Homo sapiens: one gene and its partners. The protein of the gene in region 1 purifies or fractionates together with the protein of each later gene. This does not show direct contact. Each region holds a gene or a part of one and is shown on either strand. Other genes may lie near its edges.

Region 1 (3,500 bases):
CACTTATTTATTTTTATTTTATTTTATTTTTTACTTTTTGAGACAGGGTCTTGCTCTGTCACCCAGGCTGGAGTGCAGTGGCATGGTCACAGCTCACTGCAGCCTTGACTTCCTGGGCTCAGGTGATTCTCCCACCTCAGCCTTCCAAGTAGCTGGGACTACAGGCATGCACCACATTGCCTGGCTAATTTTTTGTGGAGATGGGGTTTCGCCATGTTGTCCAGGCTGTTCTTGAACTCCTGGGCTCAGGCAATTTGCCTGCCTCATTCTCCCAAAGTGCTGGGATTATAGGCGTGAGCCACTGCGCCCAGCCTTACTTATTTTTAAATCAGATTTTTTAATCAACTAAAACAGCTATGAGTTAAGTACCTGCCCTGCAAAAATTTTTAGAAAAAGTTTTAGGATTATGAAATTAAGAATTATTTTCCTTAACTGGAACAGTTCTAAAATTTATCTGATACTTCTCTAACAAGTGAGTGATCTCATGTAACCCCAGTTTGTATCTTAAAGGCTGCAGCATAGAATTGAGCTGTATAACAGTGTTAGAACTGTCAAGTGATAATCACAGAACAGTTTGTATCGGTTTTATAATTCTCATGTCTTGATCAGATCTGAAGGAAATAGGCATACCCTCCAACATTCTAAAAATTATTTATTTTTATTAGGATTTGTTTATTAAAGTTCCACGAGCTGCTTTATGGTCAGTTGGGCTGAGTAGTAGATATCTTAAAGACATGCAGTGAAAGTGAACCCTGTCATATCATGGTGCCTCTTTCAAGGTTCCTCTGTAAGTTCCTCATCTTGCAGAATTATTTCAATACCAAGGTATGGTTGAACCAGCTGTCCAGCCTTAACTCTATTTAGTGCCCCATTACTAATGTTCTTTTAACTGGTTTGTATGTGTTTTAACTGTCCAGTGTTTGGATTTTACCTCTTGATAGCTCCATTTGTCCCTGGTGCTGCTTTTAAGGATGTAGGGCCATGTGATCAGGTATCAAGTTGAGTAGGTACGCAGTTGGCCTGGTGATGTATCTGTGCCTGTTTTATCTTCTCCCAGGAAGAGCTGCTTTGGTATAGTTGTTTACTTGGATTCATACAAAGAACAGGGCAGCAATCTTGGAAAGCTTTCTGAAGCTTATAAGAACCTGAAGGGGTTTGGAGGGGGAACAGTAACAAAGGCTGCCTTTATGTCTTTGGTCACAAAGCACATAGATGTATGTTCTGTAAAGACTAAAGTGATTGTTATACCAGGGCTTCCTGACCTTCGGGAGAGACTCAAAAAAGCAGAGAGGAGCACAAAGTGAAGTTAATTTGGTTGGCTTGCTTTATCTGGTTTCTCATTTTCTTTCAATTTAAACCTGAACATAACACCCTTCTCCGATACCTATCCAGCAGACTCCTGGTTGGGAAGCCCTGTATTAAATTTTGAGAATGTACACAGTTTTCTTTTGTACAGTGCTTTACAACTGCTAAAAGTTAACTTGTTTAAAGCAAAACAAGACCTTGAAAGGTCAATCATATTAAAGCTGGTTTGATTATTAATAGTTATCTTTTAGGAAGAAGCTTTTTTCCCTATGTAAGATGTCATACTGCAGATTTAAAATATAGACTATCAATAAAATGCATGAAGTGATCATTTGTGCTTGATCATCTCTCCTTGGGTTTTTCTTTAAAAAGGGGAATCTGCTATAAAGGTTCTGTTGCTTCAAACCAATGTCAAATAGACTTGATTTTTAGAGTCATGGAATTACAGTGCAACCTTGATTTTTATTCCCCTCACTGCTATGAGTGTGGGCAGGTACTGGTTTATATGTTATAACTTCCGTTTTATCTGTGTTGTGTAGTTGAATGGCTTAATCGTTGAGTGGTAAAATAAAAGATTATATTCCAATACAAGAATCCTGGAAAGATTTATGTGAATGACATTTTAAGTAGGCGCATCTTTGCTGTTTCTTGTATTCTCGCCATTGCTCTGACCACTCCCTTGCTTGCCCTGTATATATACAAAAACTTGTAGGTGTGCACGTGTGCTTGTACTTCTGTCTTCCATTTCTATCTTAATCTCTTAAACATATTGCTTAAGCCACTAAGATGTCCTTGTTTCAAGTAAATCGTCACATTGTGACACCTGGTGTATTGTATTATAGTTTCATTTCCTCTGGTGCCTGCAGAGCTATCTGTCATTGGCATCATAACTCGGTTTCTCAGGATAGTTTTGATGTAGTCAGCTCTTCAACTCATGACCTTCCCAAGGTTTTAAGTTTAGTGTCATTCATGATTTTATTATTTGAAACTCAATACCACCATCAAAAAGTTAGTGCTCTAGACAATGAAGCCAAAGCACAGGCATCTTAGGTCAGTGAAAAGGATCCAGACATAAATTAGCCAGGTGTGGTGGTACACAGCTGTGGTCCCAGCTACTTGGGAGGCTGAGGTGGTAGAATCACTTGAGCCCGGGAGGTCAAGGCTGCAGTGAGCCATGATCATGCTGATGCACTCCAGCCTGGGTTACAGAGCAAAACCTTGTCTCAAAAAAACCCCCAGATACCTAGAAGAAAGGATTCGATAAATCTGGGTGGATTATAAACTGAACTCTTAATGGTCATTTTAAAAAATAAGAAAGCAAGGGTCCAGTTTCTTTGAGGTCTTTGAATTTAGACAAGATTTAACTATAAGGCCTTGCATGGATTACTAACTATAATTAAATTAGCTAAACTTTTCTGGTTGCTGTCAGGCATTGTATTAAGTATTCTATATAAATTATTTAATCATCACAGTGACTGTGAGGTGAAAGTATACCACCCATTTTATAGGTAATGCAGCTGAGATACAGATGTTTGGTAATTTGCCCAGGTCACATAGTAAGTAGCAGATTATTTGCAATCATCTTTGATGCAGTCATCTTCCTTGTGCTCTTAATCCCACTACTATATGACTTCTAATTTGTTTCTTAGTATTTATCCCAAGCCCTAGACTAGATTGCTTATGAGGTGTGATTTCTTAGGAAAAACATCAGTTTTGGCTGGTTTGCCAAGAAAAAAAAAGGCCAAATTGGTTTTTGTTTATTTTTTTGTTTGTTTGAGATGGATTCTCGCCCTGTCGCCCAGGCTGGAGTGCAATGGTGCGATCTTGGCTCACTGCAACCTCTGCCTCTGGGTTCAAACGATTCTCCTGCCTCAGCCTCCCGAGTAGCTGGGATTACAGGCGCCCGCCACCACGCCCAGCTAATTTTTCTATTTTTAGTAGAGACAGGGTTTCACCATGTTGGCCAGGCTGGTCTTGAACCCCTGATCCCATGATCTGCCCGTCTCGGCCTCCCACAGTGGTGGTATTACAGGCGTGAGCCACCACGCCCGGCCGCAAATTGTTTTTTGTTTTTTTGTTTTTTGGAGGATTAATGGTAATATACTGTAAATTCAGTAAAGCACTGGGCATTACCAGATACACCTTAGCACTATGAATAACATGAACTATCATTTTAGCAGTTTAAGTGTACCTTG
Region 2 (3,500 bases), on another chromosome or scaffold:
GGGAGGGGAGGGGAGGGGCAGGGAGAGAAGCCCAGTGCGGGAGGGGAGGGGCAGCAGTAGCTACAAGGCGGGGTGGGGAGGGCAGGGGGAGAGTGCCAGGTGTCCCTCATACCCCTGTCCACTCCTAGGCCTTTGGAAATGCCAAGACCCTCCGGAACGATAACTCCAGCAGGTTCGGGAAGTACATGGATGTGCAGTTTGACTTCAAGGTACCATGGATGTGTGTGTCGTGAGGATTCCCATTCAGTAGGCTCTACACGTGTGAAGCACCTACTGGGTACCAGGGACTATTCCAGGTGCTGCAATTCCAGCAGTCAAACAAAGCAAACAAAAATCCTGCCTTCCAGGGTGATAAACAATAAACAGGGAAATTGAGGCCGTGGCAGAAAATAAAATGCAGTAAGGAGTGGGGGGCAGGTGCGGTCGTATTAGGGTAGGCCTCACTGAGAAAGTGGCATTTTAATAAAGGCTTGACAGCTGGGTAGGGTGGCACATGTCTGTTGTCCCAGCTCCTCTGGAGGCTGAGGCAGGAGGATCACTTGAGGCCAGGAGTCCAAGGTTACCCTAAGCTATGATCATGCCACTGTACTCCAGCTTGGGCTACGGAGTGAGACCCTGTCTCTAAAAAAAATAGAAAATAATGGCTTGATGGAGATAGGAGCAGGCTGTGCAGGTGCCTGTCCAGGCAGCGGGAACGGAACAGCCAGGACAAAGGCCTGAGATACGAGGGTGCTGGAAGTGTTCCAGGACAGCACGGAGGCCACAGCGGCCAGAGAAGAGAGCAGGGGCCCGCGAACAGAGAGAGGCCAAACGGTGCAGGCCCTTTTGGGTTGTTGCAAGAACTTTTTTTTTTTTTTTTTAACTCTGAGTAGAAGGGGAGTCATCGGGCTGGGTGAGGTGGCTCATGCCTGTAATCTGAGCACTTTGGGAGGTTGGGGCAGGTGGATCACGTGAGGTCGGGAGTTCAAGACCAGCCTGGCCAACATGGTGAAACCCTGCCTCTACTGAAAATACAAAAATTAGCCAGGCACGGTGGTGTGTGCCTGTTGTCCCAGCTACTCAGGAGGCTGAGGCAGGAGAATTGCTTGAACCCGGGAGTTCGAGGGTGCAGTGAACTGTGATTGCACTACTGCACTCCAGCCTGGGTGAAAGCAAGACCCTGTCTCCAAAAATAAAAAATAAAAAAATGACTTTAGCTGCTTCACTGGGAGATTGGGAGTAGACGAATAGATGGGAGGGGAACCAGGCTAAGCAGGGAAAACGGTTAGGGGGCTGATGTCATCATGTAGGTGACAGGTGACATTGGCTCAGACCAGTGTGGTGCAGTGGAAGTGGCGAGCAGTGATTGGATTCTGGATGTTTTAAAGGTTAAGGCAGCAGGATGAGCTGCCTGATTGGATGTAGGGTTTGGAGAAACACAGGCTTCCAGGAGGACTGCCAAGTCCTTGGCTTGAACAACGAGAAGGATGTAGTCACCACTGACCAAGGAGGGCAGACACTAACAGGAGCTTGTTTGAAGAGGGAGAAGGTCCGGTGTTGAGCTTCAGGCCTGTTGAATTTGCGATACCTGTCAGGCATCCAGGTGGAGCAGCCAGGTCGTTGGAGTTGAATCTCCCCATTTCCTAGATGAAGTAACTGAGTCCAGCGTGGGTGGCGTGCCTGAGCCGACGCAGCTAGTGGCAGGGCTGGAATTGGCATCCAGGTCTGGCTGCCAAAGCCCAGGAGTGCAGGGGAGAAGAGGGGCAGGTGGGCTCTTTTCCCAGTCCCCGTGACCCGGCCTCATGCCCTGCCCTGCCCACAGGGTGCCCCCGTGGGTGGCCACATCCTCAGTTACCTCCTGGAAAAGTCACGAGTGGTGCACCAGAATCATGGGGAGCGGAACTTCCACATCTTCTACCAGCTGCTGGAGGGGGGCGAGGAGGAGACTCTTCGCAGGCTGGGCTTGGAACGGAACCCCCAGAGCTACCTGTACCTGGTGAAGGTGAGTGGCTGGCAGGGAGGGCAGGTGCCACCCAGGGATCTGGTGCCAGGGCTGGCAACCCAGCTGTGCCCTTCCTCCAGGGCCAGTGTGCCAAAGTCTCCTCCATCAACGACAAGAGTGACTGGAAGGTCGTCAGGAAGGCTCTGACAGTCATTGATTTCACCGAGGATGAAGTGGAGGTGAGGCCTCTTCCGGGACCCTCGCTTTCCTCCTGTCACACCCCCAAAATCTCCTTTTTTTTTTGTTTTTTATTTTTTGAGACGGAGTTTCATTCTTGTTGCCCAGGCTGGAGTGCAGTGGTGCAATCTCAGCTCACTGCAACCTCCGCCTCCTGGGTTCAAGCAATTCTCCTGCCTCAGCCTCCCGAGTAGCTGGGATTACAGGCGCCCGCCACCACGCCCAGCTAATTTTTTGTAGTTTTAGTAGAGACGGAGTTTCACCATGTTGGCCAGCCTGGTCTCGAACTCCCGACCTCAGGTGATCCGCCTGCCTCAGCCTCTCAAAGTGCTGGGATTACAGGCGTGGGCCAGTAATCCCTTTTTTTTTTTTTTTTTTTTTTTTGAGATGGAGTCTCGCTCTTTCGCCCAGGCTGGAGTGCAGTGGTGCGATCTCAGTTCACTGCAACCTCTGCCTCCAGGTTAAAGTGATTCTCATGCCTCAGCCTCCTGAGTAGTTGGGATTACAGACACCTGCCACCACACCTGGCTAATTTTTGTATTTTTAATAATGATGGGGTTTTGCCATGTTGGCTGGGCTGGTCTCGAACTCCTGACCTCAGATGATCCTCCCGCCTCAGCCTCCCAAAGTGCTGGGATTACAGGCGTCAGCCACCGTGCCCATCCCACCCGCAGAATCACCTTCCACCTTTAACACCCATTCCCACTTCCAGCCCCTTCTCTCCGACACTTCACCACCCACCCCTGCATGGCCATCTGCTAGTTGCCCTCTTGGGGCTCTCTGGCCCCTCTCACCCCCTCCTGCCCCCGGCCTGCTCCCCCAGGACCTGCTGAGCATCGTGGCCAGCGTCCTTCATTTGGGCAACATCCACTTTGCTGCCAACGAGGAGAGCAATGCCCAGGTCACCACCGAGAACCAGCTCAAGTATCTGACCAGGGTGAGTGGGGCGGGCAGAGGGCGACGGGAGGACGGCGGGGGCGGGGGCTGGGGGTGCACCCTCACCGTGTCCTCGCCTGCCCTTGGCAGCTCCTCAGCGTGGAAGGCTCGACGCTGCGAGAAGCCCTGACACACAGGAAGATCATCGCCAAGGGGGAGGAGGTGAGGCCGGGCCCTTGCCCTCGGGTGTGGAGGGGCAGCTGTTCCAAGGCAGCCCCTACTCCCATCACTCCCCTTCGCCTGGTTCCCTCAGCAATGCTGGAGGGATGGAAGGAAGGCTGCTCAGAGAAGCAGAGTGAGAGCCGAGCGCCGTGGCTCACGCCTGTAACCCCAGCACTTGGGGAGGCTGAGGTGGGCAGGTCACCTGAGGTCAGGAGTTCGAGACCATCTTGGCCAACATGGTGAA
Region 3 (3,500 bases), on another chromosome or scaffold:
TTTGTATTTAGTAGAGGCGGGGTTTCACCATGTTGGCCAGGCTGGTCTTGAACTCCTGGCCTCAAGTGATCTGCCTGCCTCAGCCTCCCAAAGTGCTGGGATTACAGGCGTGAGCCACCGCCCTCGGCTGGAATCACTTCTTTAACATGCACAGCCCCAGACCTCAGTCTCTTGGAGATTCTAACTGTGTGAATTGGGAGAGAGAAAGGGGAATCTAGATTTTTTTTTTTTTTTTTTGAGATGTGGTCTTGCTATGTTGCCTAGGCTGGAGTGCTGTAACTATTCACAGGTGCAGTTATAGCACACTACCACCTCAAACTCCTGGGCTCAAGAGATCCTCCCACCTCTGCCTCCCGAGTAGCTTGGACTGCAGGTGCACACCATCTTACCCAGCTGAAATCTGCTTTTTTTTTTTCTCAGTGCAGTGGCACAGTCATGGCTCACTGCAGCCTCGACCTCCCAGACTCAGGTGATCCTCCCAACTTCAGCCTCCTGAGTAGCAGGGACCACAGGCCTGCACCACCTTGCCCAGCTAATTTTTGTATTTTTTGTAGAGACGGAGTTTCGCCAGTTGCCCAGGATGGTCTTGAACTCTTGGGCTCAAATGATCCGCCGCCCGCAATGGGCCCAGCTGGAATCTGCATTTTTTTGTTTTTTGTTTTGAGATGAAGTCTCACTCTGTCGCCCAGGCTGGAGTGCAATGGCGCAATCTTGGCTCACTGCAACCTCCGCCTCCTGGGTTCAAGCCATTCTCCTGCCTCAGGCTCCCAAGTAGCTGGGATTACAGGCACGTGCCATCACACTTGGCTGATTTTTGTATTTTTAGTAGAGACAGGGTTTTACCATATTGGCCAGGCTGGTCTCGAACTCCTGACCTCAAGTGATCGGCCCACCTCGGCCTCCCAAAGTGCTGGGATTACAGGCATCAGCCACTGTGCCTGGCCTGGTATCTGCATTTTTATGAACAGCCCAGGAGGGTGTAATGCAGAGTCCTTGGCGTGCACTTTCAGCAACACTGCAGTAAGGACTAGAAATCGCACATCAAATGCTGGCAGAGTGCCTGGTGCTTAGTAGGTGCTTAGTGAGTGTTTGTTGAGTGAATAAATGAACAGGAATGGATGGAGAACAGGAACCCAAAGGAATGGATGAGTAACCTTATTTCCTTGGTCCTTGTCTGGAAACTGGGGCAACTGGGGCTGGGGTTCAGGTGAGTGGCCAGCCAGTCATCTGGTCTTTGCCTCCCCCTCATTTTTGCCAGGCCTCACATAGACGGTCAGCCATTGGATCATAGGAACTGCCCTGGCCTGACTCACCCAATATGGAGGAGGTGCCTGGGGATGCCCTGTGTGAACACTTTGAGGCCAACATACTTACCCAGAACCGCTGTCAAAACTGCTTCCACCCTGAGGAGGCCCATGGAGCAAGATACCAGGTGGGCCAGTTTTCCACGTGGTTGGGGTGGTTTGTGATGGGGGCATGGGTGAAGGACTGGGCCTGTGGTGTCCGCTAACTCGCAGTTGAACCCAGATGCTGGACTTCCTCCTGTCGAGAGCCTCGGTTTTCCCACATTGCAGGGAAGTGGTTGAACCATGTGAATGTTTCACAATCTTCAGTCACTTTCCTCCTGCTTATATGATACGATTGTTACCATAGCCTTATCTAATCTGTTACTTACTTTGTTATTCTTTAAATCAACATCTTTTTCCCCTTCTATTGAAACAAAACTTCACATCATCAACACAAGTAGAAAACTAGAATTACTTCCTGTTAAGAAGAAGAGGTTAAGAAGAAAGGTAGAGGCTGGGCACGGTGGCTCACGCCTGTAATCCCAGCACTTTGGGAGGCCGAGGTGGGTGGATCACCCGAGGTCGGGAGTTTGAAACCAGCCTGGCCAACATGGTGAAAATTAGCTGGGCATGGTGGTGCATGCCTGTAATCCCAGCTACTTGGGAGGCTGAGGCAGGAGAATCACTTGAACCTGGGAGGCGGAGATTGTGGTGAGCCGAGATCGCGCCATTGCACTCCAGCCTGGGCAACAGAATGAAACTGTCTCAAAAAACAAAACAAAACAAAACAAAAAAGAGAAGAAAGGTAGAAAAAGAAAAAACAAAACAGAAATGTCGTTACACCCTAACTTGAGAGTGTTTTCTTTTTCTTTTTCTTTTTTTTGAGACAGAGTCTCACTCTGTCGCCTGGGCTAGAGTGCAATGGCAATGGTGTGATCTCAGCTCACTGCAATCTCTGCCTCCTAGGTTCAAGCGATCCTCCCGCCTCAGCCTCCCAAGTATTGGGATTACAGGTGCCTGCCACCATGCCCAGCTAATTTTTGTATTTTTAGTAGAAACGGGGTTTCGCCATATTGGCCAGGCTGGTCTTAAACTCCTGACCTCAGGTGATCCACCCGCCTCAGCCTCCCAAAGTGTTGGGATTACAGGCGTGAGCCACCGCGCCTGGCCTCGAGAGTGTTTTCTATGGAAGGCTCTGAGCTTGCATCCTGCTGTCTCTTTGTCAAAAAGGGAGATTAGCAGATGTTAGAGAGATGTTAAGAATACACCAGCATCATCTAGAGATTTTCTTTCTCTCTCTCTTTTTTTTTTTTTTTTTTTTTTTTGGAGATAGGGTCTTGCTCTGTAGCACAGGCTGGAGTGCAGTGGTCCAACCTATAGTACATGGCTCACTGTAGCCTCGACCTCCCAGGCTCAAATGATCTTCCCACCTTGGCCTCCTGAGTAGCAGGGACTACAGGCACATGCCACCATGGCCAGCTAATTTTCTTGTAAAGATGGGATCTCACTATGTTGCCAGGGCTGGTCTCAAATTCCTGGGCTCAGGTGATCCTCCCACCTCAACCTCTGTAACTGCAGGGATTACAGGTGTGAGACACTGCACCTGGTCTCAAGATTTTCTTCTTCAAGTTATTGAAGGAGTGAAGAAGAATCCTTTTTTTTCTTTCTTTTTTTTTCATTTGAGACGGAGTCTCTCTCTGTCGCCAGGCTAGAGTTCAGTGGCTCAATCTCAGCTCACTGCAACCTCCGTCTCCTGGGTTCAAGCAATTCTCCTGCCTCAGCCTCCTGAGTACCTGGGATTACAGGTGCCCACCACCATGCCCAGCTAATTTTTGTATCTTTAGTAGAGACAGGGTTTCACCATGTTGGTCAGTCTGGTCTCGAACTCCTGACCTTGTGATCTGTCTGCCTCGGCTTCCCAAAGTGCTGGGATTACAGGTGTGAGCCACCGCGCCTGGCCGAGATTTTCTTCTTCAAGTTATTGAAGGAGTGAAGAAGAGTCCTTTTCTGACTTTGTGATTGATGTAGTCTGCTGCCAAGCCCCCATGCATGTAAACACAGAGCACCTGATACACACGCAATGAGAAACCTGGGACTCACGAACCTCCGAGGGCCCTTCCAACCTTGACCACCATGGCTTCGTCATTCCCATTGGGGTCTGAAGGTCCTCTTTTTTTTTTTTTTTTTTTGAGACAGAGTCTCGTTCTGTTGCCC
Region 4 (3,500 bases), on another chromosome or scaffold:
TCCAAGGGATTTTACAGTTTGGTTTTTGCACCTAACTGGCCATGGCCTTGGCTCTGGCCCTATCTTCTTGACATCTTGGCAGGTCTACCAACTCTTCTTCAGTTACAGTCTCAGAGTTAGCCAGTGGCAATGACTTTCCAGTTCTTGGCTGGTTTTTGATCTGTAAGAGTGACCTTGGGCAGGTTACCTCTCAAAGCCTCTGTTTCTTTATCTGGAAACTGGGGATGATTATACCCCTTCTCCTTGGAGTTGTGAAGAGAATAATGTAAAGCAACTGGTGTAATGCCTAGTACCCAGCAGGTGCTCAATAAATGGTTTATGTGCTGGTGAGGCTGGTACTATGGATATATGGTATAGAGTAGATAAAGTTTTAATATAAAATCCCTGCATTAGGCATAGAAAATATAACTAAGGAGACCAAAACTGCAGGTCTAAGAGAGGACAACTAGATATGAAACATATTATATTGGTGATCACAACAAAAATGGTGGGGTGTAGGGAGAGTGACAGTTCAGGGTTGTTGGCAAATGTTTCCTGGAAGATAACTTTATTGCACCTTGAAAAGTCAGTAAAGTGTGTCCAGGCAGGGAAATCCTTTTCTTTGGAGCCTGTGTGGTGGACTTGAATGTGGAAAAGATGCCAGTATCCTGTTTCTGCCTGGCTTGGCTGATATTTAACTAGGCTGCTATGGGGGGAAATCAGAATACCTCCAGGTGCTCACCTGGTGTTGGCCTCAGCACTGGGGCAGTCAGCACTGAGGTGGCTTCTGTTTGATTCCTCTAAGCCCTGGGTGCCCATGTGACTTGTATACACCCAGGTCATAATCAGTTTAGCATAATGCCAGATACGTACATAGCGGGCATCCGATAAAATGAAGGAAGAAAAGTACAGGGGAGGGGAAGGGAAAGTAGGCAGGCTTAACTTTGTTGGGCTTCAGTTTTTCCTCTGTAAAATGGAGTTGGACCAGATGCTGGTGAACATTTCTTCAAATCTCCCACTCTGACGTTCTGCTTCAGAACCTCAGACATAAAAGGATTTGGAGTGTCTTCCAGGCCGCCTGCATGTTTCTCTCTGCTGGTAGGCACAGCCCCCAAGCAGTGAGGATGTGTGATGCATAAACACCTCCAGAGGAATCGTTCTACTATTGCTCTTGAACAATTCTTCCAGTGTTTAGAAGCTCTTAAGGCTTAAATATTCTATGCTGCAGCCTAAGCATCATTCCTCTTCTCTTCTTAGTGGAGATAAAATTACCCACTGCTCTCCTTACATTTACTTTGTCCATATTTGCTCCTATGCTCTAGGCTCGTGCACAACAAACACAGTGTGGGCCCTTACCCTAGAAGCCAACTTCTCATGACCTTTCTCTATCTCCAGAATCCATGCAGTGGGAATGAAGGTAAAAGAAGGTTTTCATGGGATCCAGCTGAGAGCTCTACGGGGAAAATGGATCTGAGGAGCCATGTGCTCCATCTCTTTTATTTTACAGGTAGAGACTAGGGGTATAGAGTGAGGTGAATTACCGCAGTGACCCACACATTGTTGGCAGACCTAGGATTAGAACTCTGTCTTCCTGGTTCCCAGCTTGGTGCTTTTGAAAGCATACTTGCTGCTTTCTTACCGGCCTGGTGTCTGCCACTTTGGGACAGAGTGTGGACTTGCTCACCTGCCCCATTTCTTAGGGATTCTCATTCTGTGTTTGAGCAAGAATATTCTTATTCTGGAAAGAACCACATACCACAGGATTCTGGGTGAGCATAAGGAAGATTGTCTTGGGGATCTGACTTAGCTCACGTATAGTGGCTATGATGAATTCAGTGTCTTATTTTTTGCATATGTATATTTTTAGTCTAATATTGCCTGGGTGTCTGAGCAAGTCTAGATGAATTTAATTGCTCTCATTTTTCCCCTGCCCCTCTTCCTTTGGTCTCTCTTTTAGGAAATGTTTTTCTTTCAACATTCGTTTCATTCATTATTTACTCATTCGGCCAACCAACATTTATTGAGTGCCTTCCCTGTATCAGGGACAGGGGCTTACAAAGTAGAATTTGATCCCACCTCTGCCCTCAGTAGCTCAGTGTCTAATGGAGGTAGTGATGTTCATTAAGCGTCGCCAGATACTGTGCTAGGTGCTGTGCCTGTTCTCTCTCGCTTGTTCCTCACACACTTGAGAAGGCCGAAGCTGATTCATAGCTTGGAAGGCAGGGGCCTTGGATTTGAACCCAGGCCTGACCAATGGCAGAACCTATCAGATGTGTGGACAGATGACATTGCCTTTCTTTCTTTGGATATATCAAAATCAGCCAGCAGGCAGGAACTCCCATTTTGAGCAAGCAATGTGCAGGAATGATAGGGTATACAGAGAGGAACAGGAGATGGCCCCTGACTTCCAGCATGTGTCTGATGGACATCCAGGCTGCAGGCATCATGGTGCTGTCTAGAGAGATGAGCCAGGTGCCCAGAGCCCATGGGCCAATGCTGCCCTTTCTTGAGCATGCCAAACAAAGCGGTTGGTGTGTTAGAGGCACAGTCTCCTCCACTCTAAGTAAAAATCAGCATGAGTCCTAGCCCACATTTCCCTAGTGAGTATACCAAAGATATCTATGAACTGGCAGTCATCAGTGACTTCCTAAGGTTCCGGAAATGCATCTCTTACTCAGGAGTAAGCAATGATGTGCCTGCGGCTTTACGAGTTCTCACAGAATGACTTTCTGGACCCAAATGTTTTTTCTGCTTCAGGACTGTGAAGGCCTTATTGTTCGCTCTGCCACCAAGGTGACCGCTGATGTCATCAACGCAGCTGAGAAACTCCAGGTGGTGGGCAGGGCTGGCACAGGTGTGGACAATGTGGATCTGGAGGCCGCAACAAGGAAGGGCATCTTGGTTATGAAGTAAGTCATGGAGGCTGCGGGCGGTTTGGGGGTAGGGGGGTGAGTGCGGAGACTGACCACACCTAGGGAGAAAAAACTCACTTGAGAGAAAGCTGAGTCCATTGGAAGGGCTTCCAGGAGGATGCCTGGTCTAGGGCCTGCATGGTCAACACACACAGCATAGTGGTTTCAAGGTTTTTGGAAGGCAGCTATGCTCACCACTATATCACCAATGCCATCAGGGTGTTACACAGTTTTTGAAATTGAGAGTCCCTGCATAATCTCAAAATGTTTCACGAGCCCACCCCATGCGCAGTTGCTTGCACCTCTGTGACCTGGTTCAGGAATCGGAAGGTCAGTGAGTTCATCTGCATTTCCTGCTCCCACCCAGCCCCCTCTGCCTCTATTAATGCTGTTTGTGGCAGGTTTTTGTCAGCTCTACTTTACTGTGCTTGTACAGAGGCACAACCTTTGCTAGCAGACTAATGACTAGAATCCTTGCCCTCCCCACTTCCCTGCCACCTTCTGGAACTAAGACACTAGTTTCTCTTTCAGTGCTCTAGGGCAAGAGGAGAAGGGTCCCATTTAAAGCTGTTTCTGCAGAAACACAGGGGCAGAGGTCATCAGCACGCC

What was found. The genes of interacting proteins can lie anywhere in the genome.
Region 2: the proteins of RLIM (region 1) and MYO1C purify together in Homo sapiens (affinity purification with mass spectrometry, with the first as the bait; one study listed by BioGRID). This does not show direct contact.
Region 3: the proteins of RLIM (region 1) and TRIOBP purify together in Homo sapiens (affinity purification with mass spectrometry, with the first as the bait; one study listed by BioGRID). This does not show direct contact.
Region 4: the proteins of RLIM (region 1) and PHGDH purify together in Homo sapiens (affinity purification with mass spectrometry, with the first as the bait; one study listed by BioGRID). This does not show direct contact.

Annotation. Positions count from the first base shown.
Region 1 is NC_000023.11:74,583,625-74,587,124, reverse strand, and holds part of RLIM (E3 ubiquitin-protein ligase RLIM), read left to right. Parts: 3' UTR 1-3,500. UniProt on the Homo sapiens protein: E3 ubiquitin-protein ligase.
Region 2 is NC_000017.11:1,479,187-1,482,686, reverse strand, and holds part of MYO1C (unconventional myosin-Ic), read left to right. Parts: intron 1-128; coding exon 129-209; intron 210-1,801; coding exon 1,802-1,981; intron 1,982-2,061; coding exon 2,062-2,160; intron 2,161-2,981; coding exon 2,982-3,095; intron 3,096-3,184; coding exon 3,185-3,256; intron 3,257-3,500.
Region 3 is NC_000022.11:37,700,048-37,703,547, forward strand, and holds part of TRIOBP (TRIO and F-actin-binding protein), read left to right. Parts: intron 1-1,258; 5' UTR 1,259-1,318; coding exon 1,319-1,432; intron 1,433-3,500.
Region 4 is NC_000001.11:119,718,434-119,721,933, forward strand, and holds part of PHGDH (D-3-phosphoglycerate dehydrogenase), read left to right. Parts: intron 1-1,444; exon of another isoform or gene 1,445-1,459; coding exon of another isoform or gene 1,460-1,486; intron 1,487-2,736; coding exon 2,737-2,888; intron 2,889-3,500. UniProt on the Homo sapiens protein: Catalyzes the reversible oxidation of 3-phospho-D-glycerate to 3-phosphonooxypyruvate, the first step of the phosphorylated L-serine biosynthesis pathway.